Linked DNA regions of Homo sapiens. The protein of the gene in region 1 purifies or fractionates together with the protein of each later gene. This does not show direct contact. Each region holds a gene or a part of one and is shown on either strand. Other genes may lie near its edges. The genes, in order: ESAM and CENPF.

Region 1 (4,368 bases):
GGGGCCATCGTTTGCACCACGGCGTCCAGAAATACTCATCCTTTGCCCTTCGGGGAGGCAACAGAGCAGCCAACTGGTAAGCCCTTTGGGGAATAACCTTGGGCTTGCACACGGCCAGGCCTGAGGATGATCGCCGCTCCAGTCCCGGGCCCTACTCCCTCCAGGCCTCGGCCCTCTGCCTCGGAGCGGAAGACGCCACCTCCGCGTGGCGAGCAGGCGGCCAACGCCGCGGGAAGAGGCCGCAGCCAGGCCCCGCTCTCCACCCTCGCCCTAGGAGAGCCAGGCTGAAGGCCTCTAAGGGCTGGGAGCCGATCCGGCCAGGATGCAAGCCTCCCCCACCGCTTCCCGGCTGCGCCGTACAGAACCCCCACCTCTGTTACTTGGCCTTCGCAGCATCCCCCTTCCCATTTCCTGGAGGATCTCTGTGGTCTGGGCAGGAAATTTGTACCCAGTGATAAGGCAGAAGACAATGAAGGGGGGGCCACTAGACCGGAGGCTCTACGGGAGGAAACAATCCCCGCCTCAAGGAGCTGGACGCCCCCTGGGGACCCGGCCCGCTGGCCATTCCGCTGAGGCCGGGCACGCCTGGAGCCTGCAGGTGCTGCCGGCTCTCCCCCAGCCTTTCTACGACACACACCCGGCGGCCAGAAAGGGTTTCCGCCGGGAAACTGCCTGGGGCCCAGAAGGGGCGCGCCCTTCCTTCACCTTGTGGACCACCAGCGACCTCCCCAGGTCCCACATTTATAATTCCACTTTCCAGAAGGTAGAGGAGAGTTAAAAGAGATAGTAACGGACACACTGGGGTCTGGGCACATGCTCCTTGCCCTTCGCCCTGTCAGAAACTAGGAACAGAAGAGGGCCTGAGGCTTTTCTGCTCTCCCTCCTGGGTGTCTGCTGGCTCGGAAGTCACCAACTGGTCCGTTTTTTTCGGTCCCAGGGTCCACGGAGCCACTGGGAGAGAAAAGGAGTCTGGTTGGGTCTGATCGAAGGACACTGGGACAGCCCAAGAAAGGGACCCTTCCGGCCCACAGCCCTCTCCGAGGCCAGAGTGAGGGAGCCGGCAGGGGCCGAAGGAGAGCGAAATGGGCCCGCTCCCCGGGGCTATTTTTAGTCTCCCTCTTTCTCTGAGAAACTCCCCCCGCGGGCTTCTCACGCCCCAGGGGCAGCAGCACTGAGCCGCCGAGGAGCCTACTGAGCCGGAGAGCCTCCTCCAGAGCCCAGAAGAGCGGAGCCGGGCGCCTGCACGTTGCACCGGGGTCACCAGTGCCATTTAACCCTCGAGTGGCTGGCGGGAACTGGGCAACCCCCCAGGGGGACCGATTGGAACTTTTGAGTCCAGGTCTTCAGTCTGACAAACTGAGGCTCAAAGCTGGGGTAGGACAAAGGGTTGCAGATGAGCAGCAGGTGAAGCCTGGGACACTCAGGCAGTCAACTTGAACTGTCCTCCCTGGCTTCAGAGATTCCCCCAGCCCCCACCCCCCACAAGGAAGGGGGATAGAGTTGGGGTGGAATGCAGAAGGAACAGAGCTGAAGTTGAAGTTGGGAAAGGCGGGATGAGAAGTCTGAGGGATCCTGGAGCAGGCCCACCAAGCCCAGAGGGACAGAAGGCTACTTGTGGCCTTGGTGTGGCCTGGGGGGCTGTACTTGAGACTCATTTTGTCCAAGGACTATAATATTGCATGCCCCGACACCTGTGGGGCACAGAACATGCTAAAGGGGACACTGGTGATCCTCATCTCTGTCCCCATCATTGTAGAATTTCACTCTACAGCTTCCCAGGCCTTACTTGTCCTGACATCCTCCAACCTGAGAAATGAGTTAAAGTCAATATAGCTAAACCCACCCTTCACTCCCATTCGAGATCCTTGAAGGGAGATGGCAAGAAAGCTGAGGGACAGCAAGTGAAATAGTTTAAAAGGGCCTAGTCCTGCCGGGTCCTCTCCCAGATGGAGTTCTGAGCCACCCCAGCTTCAGCTGAAGCCAGCGCCCCTGGAGGCCTACAACACTTCCCAAACACTTGCTCCAAGGAGGTTCCCTTCCTCTCTGACCCTTGGCCACCCTCCTCCCAATTTCCCCTCTTCCCTTTGGCTCTGGAAACCAATAAGGGTGGTGGGCCTTGGGGGGGTGGGGTGGTCACAATTCTGTTTCTCTGTGCGTTTGAACCCCTCCCCCATTTCCTGTGTCCCAAATGACCTCACGGTCGTCCTTTTGGGGCACCTCCCTTGATTCCCAGGGCAGGAAGCAGGAGGGGGCAAGAGAGAGCATCTGCGCTGGGGAATTGACACGAAGTGCGTGTGTCAAGCCTGGGGACCAGGGGTATTTCCCCGGGGGATCTTCCTCATCAGCTTGTATGTGGGGTCGGGGATGAGAGGGGGCTAGAGTTAAGTCCTTAAGCTCTTTAGCCAGTGTCTCATCTAGCGGCTCAGCTCATCCGGCTCTGCTGGGTGGGGGGTGGGGAGTGGACAGGGTGAGGAATGGTTCCGATAACTCACCCCAGAGGTATCCAGGTCTTCCGAGAGATGCCCTTACCTCCCCCCGCCATCCGCCCCCACACCCAAACTGGGGGCTGTCCCCGACAAAGCGAGAAGTCAGCGCCAGCCAGTGATGCCCTGGAGTGGGATTAGGAGGTCAGGGGAGGAGGGCGAGTCGTGGGACCCAGTTCCGCAGCAGTGGCCAAAGTTCTCCCTCAGGGTCGAACTCACCCCATCCCGCATCCCAAGTCCCCTCCAGGTCCGGGTTTCACTCACCGAGGGCACTCAGCCCCAGGAACAAAAACCGCAGCAAGTTGGTCACCAGGGGCCCCGGGAGGGAAATCATGGCCCTCCCTGGCCGGGACGGAGTCAGGGGCGCCAGCCGCGGGACGCACGGACCTGCAGGTGCCGAGGCTGCGCGACGGCCGGAGCGTGCGCGGGAGCCGAGCCGCTGACACCCAGGGCGGCTCCAGCCCAAGTCTGCGCGCCTGTGTGCCGGTGGCGGGGTGGGGACCGACGGCGACAGCGGGGCGGGGCATTCGAGGGGGCGGAGAGGTCGCCGTCCTCCCGGGCGGGGCGCGCGGGGTCCGCCGCCCGGGGGCGCCCCCAGCGCGCGGACGGCGGGACCCTGCGGCCTCCTCCAGGTCTGGACGCAGGGAGGGGTGAGGTAAGCTCTGATGCCCCACGAGCCAGCCAGGTACGAGTAGAGGGGGAAGAGGAGGCTCCAGAACTATCCTGAGCCGTAACCTTCCCTTCCGCCGGGGTGGGATAGGAAGGGTGACCAGGAAGGGTGGGAAATTTGGGGACTATCCGAAGTCAGAACCACCCGTAACACCTGACATGTAAACGCTCCTGGGCTCTGGCTCCAAACTTGGGGGTGCCGCATCCCCGGCCCAATCAGGGCGGTCTTCCTGAAGGAGGAAGAGGGGAGCAGCGTTTTCCAGCTGCAGGGAGAGGCCGGAGCGCCGGCCGCGCGGGCTCCCTGGCACAGCGGGAATCTGTGGCTTTCCTGGAGGCGGGGGCTGCGCGGCCACCGGAGCGCGGCAGCGAGGGCGACGGCAGAGGTCGCGCGGGAGCCCAGGGCGCCCCGGGACGCGCCAGCGGGGAATCTTCACCCGCGGGCAGGAAAAAGCGCTCCGCGAGTTCAGCAGACCCCAGCCCAGGCTGGAGGATTACCCCGGCCTGTGCCTCATACTCCGAGCAGGGAAGGTTGGCACAAGGTAGTCCCGGGAGCTGAGCAGGAAACTGAGGCAACGTGCGTGCTGCTCCCAGCTTAGCCCCTGAAATGAGCGGCGTACGGGCCTGATGCTGACTGGGGAGGAGGGGCGGCTGCGGGAAGGAAGACAGGACAGTCCCTCCGTTTCTTCTTTATCCCCCAAATCTTCAGTGCCTCCCATCCCCGCAGCGAAAGGCTCAGGCGCGCTCTGATCCTTTAATTCCCGAGACTAGATCTTGGTCGCTGTGAATTGAATTTTACGCCCCCCTTCCCGCGCCATTCGGTCAAAAGGCACCTCTGCGCCCTCTGGCGGCCGCCGCTCCCTTACAGAAAGGCACGCACCTGTTCTTGCTTTTCTGTCCAACAGCCAAAAAAAAAAAAAAAAAAAAAAAAAAAAAATGCTTCAAACATCCCAGCACAGCTCAACCACCCAGCAAAGGTCAGTGAGGGAAGAAAGCATAACAACGAATTCCTGACGCTGCCCGCTCTGCGGGCAGAGCTGTCTGGGAAGAAAAGCAGCCAGGCCTGCGGGATTCCATTTACTGCACATAGTTTTGCTGTTTTAACAGAGTGTAGTCCCTGGGCCCACACTTCACACAAGATCTTTTTCTATACAGTGCCCCATATGCCCTCTCAGCTGCTTCTTTCTAGTGTGACCTGCCTGGCTCCTCTTCAAATACC
Region 2 (3,808 bases), on another chromosome or scaffold:
GGAAATCCATAGGTACCAAAGCATTAGGACCAGAAAATGACAATTCAGAAATGCATTCTGAAGAGCCCTGGGTTTTATCTTCCCCTGGAGGCTCATAATTGGTATCTGGGGACTGTTCCCCAGAGCACTCTCCTGTGGGTTTCACTGCACCAGTCTCAGTTATTTTCTCAATGTCTAGATTGAGGTCCTGCTGAGCATCTTTATCACAAATCTGATGAACATCATGCTTTGGTGTTCTTTCTGTAGTTTCTGAAGTATGTTCTTTTGATATGTCACAGCTCTCATTTCGGCCTTGAATAGCCTGTAATTATAATACATAACAAGCATGCATTTTATTTTTCAAAAAGAATCAAAATAGAATAGATTTAGTTATTACTTTTTAGAAACTGATGCGTGGCCTCTGCTAAACACATCTCTTAAAGTGGTGAATTTCCCACTACATCTTTCTCTCTTCATTCAAATGTTCAACATACTTATACGTTCAGTAAGTGGCCCCTATGGGCAAGACACTGGGGTTAGGCATTTATCTTGAAGACAAACCCTTCGGCTCAATTACAATTTGTAATGTATTTAAATTTCATATTTTTCCCTTGCTAAGAATATTCAGGTAGCCTAAATATGAAATCTCTTTGTAATTATTAAATAAGAGGCTAACAAAATGCTCAGCTTCCACCTTCAGCATTTATGATACTCTTTAATAAGGCAGTAAAGTTTCATAACCAGATTCCCAGTCCAAGGACTTAATCCCCAATCCAGCACTTACTGTACATTATTGGATAAATTACATATTTGAGCCTCACTTTCCTCTCATCTGTAAACTGGGGATCTGCTGTTGCACCTACACCTGCCATCACCTCACCATGACCTGCCTTCTCTACCTCACAGAGATAGACAGAGGAAATCAAGTGACATGCATACACTATATAGCATTATTAATTAAGCTAGCAGGCTAGAAAGGACAAAGTTACAAGCAATTAAACAAATATGTATTCAATTTTTTAAAAGCCCTTTTAAATGACTTATACCAAATCATATTTTTGTACCACAGTAAATTGTTAGAGAGAAAACTGTTTAGTAATACATAAAGAATCTGCTGTATTTAGTTTCATGACGATAATGCCATAACATCAAAAATAGTCTGAAAAGTGGGAGAGATTAAAAATTTACATATTACCATTTGTAAGTTCTTAATTATTTCAGTATACTTTATTAATGCACAAAGGGTGGAAACACACATTCTAAAGACTTTCTGACTCCATAATATAATTTTCTCCAGACTTTAAAAACATCTTTAGTAATATTCTATATAATGCTATGTAAATCTAATCCCTATAGAAATTTATTCCTCAAATAACGTTTACTCATTTTCCTCAAGTTCTGGTTTGTTTTGAAAATATTTTGGTGTATTTTATTTCCTTGAACCCTAAAAATATTTTAACTTAGGTTTAATGTACATTTCAATTAGACAAACATTTACTGAGTGTCCACTAGTCATGTAAACCGAGAAATGGCATTTAAATCCCAGGTACTTACATCTTCTGTGTCGATGCCAAGCAAAGACCGAGAACTTAAGTCCAGACCTTGTAGCTGGAGTCGTGCTACTTCCAGCTCAAGTGACAGTTGTTCCGTCTGTTTCTTTTCTGCCGCCAACTTGGACTCCATCTCCAGAGTCACGCTTGTCAGCTTCTGTTGCCACTGTTCATTTTCTGACAAATACTGCTTCCTAAGGCAGTCAAGCTCTTGCCTTTCAGAACTTAATAACTGCTCGAGCTCTTGAATTTCCTTATTTTTCATAATCCCTTGACTTTCCATTTTCTCTTCTAGCTTCTCGAGGGACTGCCGGTACACCTCACAGAGGGACTCAAGCTCTTCAACACCCTTCGCTGGGGCCGAAGGGGTTTCTTTCCTGGTCAGATTCTCCTCCTGCAGACTGCTGCAAAATACTTCATCTACACTGCACTGGTTTGCTGAAACAGCCCCTTCTAAATTACTCAAAAGAGACATATCTCCTGTCTGTTCTAAAAGAGCTCTGTAAAAGGAGGAGTCTCCCAAACTGCTAAGACTAGAGCTGTCAGGCACACAAGAGGATGACAGGGATGGAACGAGCCCCTCCTCCAAGCCCAGCTGCATCTCCTTCACCAAGTCACCTTGAAAGTTTCTCAGATTCGTTGACAAGACCAAATTTTCGGCCTTTAATGAGTCAACATAGGTCTGCAGCTCTGACATTTTAGAGCTCATCTGACAGTGCTGATCATGTAAAATTTTGTGTTCACTTTGTAAAGATAAGAATTTCTCTTGCAATTCGGCAAAGTGCATTTGAACTTCTTTGTCTGACAATGTCAAGTGCTCGTAGGAATTACTCTCGTCCAATGGAGCCAAAGACACAGGGTGCTGTTCATTTGGTTGTTCACCAAATTCACCTCCTGGTATGTCTTCCACTAACTCACCATGGAGAAGACCACTGTCATCATTTAATATTTTAACTTCATTTAGTAGTTTCCCTACCTCTTCTGCCATTTTCCTAGTTGCTGTGATACATTCTGACCTTGAATCATTCAGCTCAGTTACGAGTTCATACTTTTCAGCCTGCAGTATTTCACATATTTTCTCTAGCTCATTCAGCTTGTTCATTGTTGTTTGCAGAGAGCACTGAAGGTGTGCATTGTCGTTTTGACTTGTTGACAACTCATGAGGCCCTGAAATATACTTTTCTTCCGCATCTATTTCACAGTCTTTAAGGCCACTAATTTCTTGTGACTGCATGTCTTGCAAATTGCTGGTTTCAAGATCTCCTCTAATTGTCTGTAATTCATGCTGCAGGCACTCCTTCTCCTTCTCACTTTCCTGAAGTTTTAATTCCTTATTTCTTAGCATAGCTTCTAATTGCACCAACTGCGCATTATAACTATCTAGAGAAATTTCTTTAACTTCAAGATCCATCTGAGGTTTAAAATTACATTGATTTCTCTCACTCTCTCTTTCTTTCACAGAGTTCCTAATTGGTTCTGATTCTAGATTTTGACATTCATGTTTAGTCTTCATTACCTTCATCAGCTGTTCATTCTCTTGTAATAAGTCATTAACTTCCTTTTGCATTTTGTTTTGTTCTTCCTTTAAAGTCATGATTTCTTGCTTTAAACCACCAGCCTCGCTCTTAGAATTGTTTTGGTTATCTGTCATCTCAGATCTCAGAGCTTGCTGCACTGTCTCCAACTCTAGCATCAGATTCTGATTTCTTTCTTCAGCAAATGCTAATTTTGTTAAGAATTCTTGGTGTTCCTTTGCAAATGCTTCCTTTAGCTGTTCCAACTCATTTTTCCTATTTTCACAAAGACTAGTGCATTCATTTAGCAAGCATTCTAATTTAGAATTCTTTTCCTGTGCTGCTTTGTATTTTTGACTAAGATCCTCATATGCATTTCCGGTTTCTTCACATCTTTGTAGTAAAATAAGTTTTTCTTGCTTGTACTGATCAGATAACTCTGAAATGCTTTTCTCCCTTTCATCTATATAGTTTGCAAAACTCTCACTTTTCTGGATTAAGTTCATCTTCTCTTGATTTAAGGATGCATTAATTTCCTTAAGAGTCCCATTCTCTTGGGTCAGCTCTTCAATTTCCCTTTTATTTAGAGAAATGATGGAACTCATTTCTTTCTTCTCCAAGCTTAGGGTTTCGGATAAAAGTTGTAGCTCCTTTAGAGAGTCTTCAAGTAGATGGTTGCTCTTTTTTAATTCTTGAATCTCTGCCTGCTCAGTTTCTACCTTATCATTTAAAAGTTGCAGCTCTTTTTCCTTGTTCTCAAGGGCA

What was found.
Region 2: the proteins of ESAM (region 1) and CENPF purify together in Homo sapiens (affinity purification with mass spectrometry; one large-scale study listed by BioGRID and IntAct). This does not show direct contact.

The regions. Positions count from the first base shown.
Region 1 is NC_000011.10:124,759,338-124,763,705, forward strand, and holds the start of ESAM (endothelial cell-selective adhesion molecule precursor), read right to left. Parts: upstream 2,954-4,368; 5' UTR 2,818-2,953; coding exon 2,748-2,817; intron 77-2,747; exon of another isoform or gene 1-76.
Region 2 is NC_000001.11:214,641,050-214,644,857, reverse strand, and holds part of CENPF (centromere protein F), read right to left. Parts: coding exon 1,534-3,808; intron 302-1,533; coding exon 1-301. UniProt on the Homo sapiens protein: Required for kinetochore function and chromosome segregation in mitosis. Required for kinetochore localization of dynein, LIS1, NDE1 and NDEL1.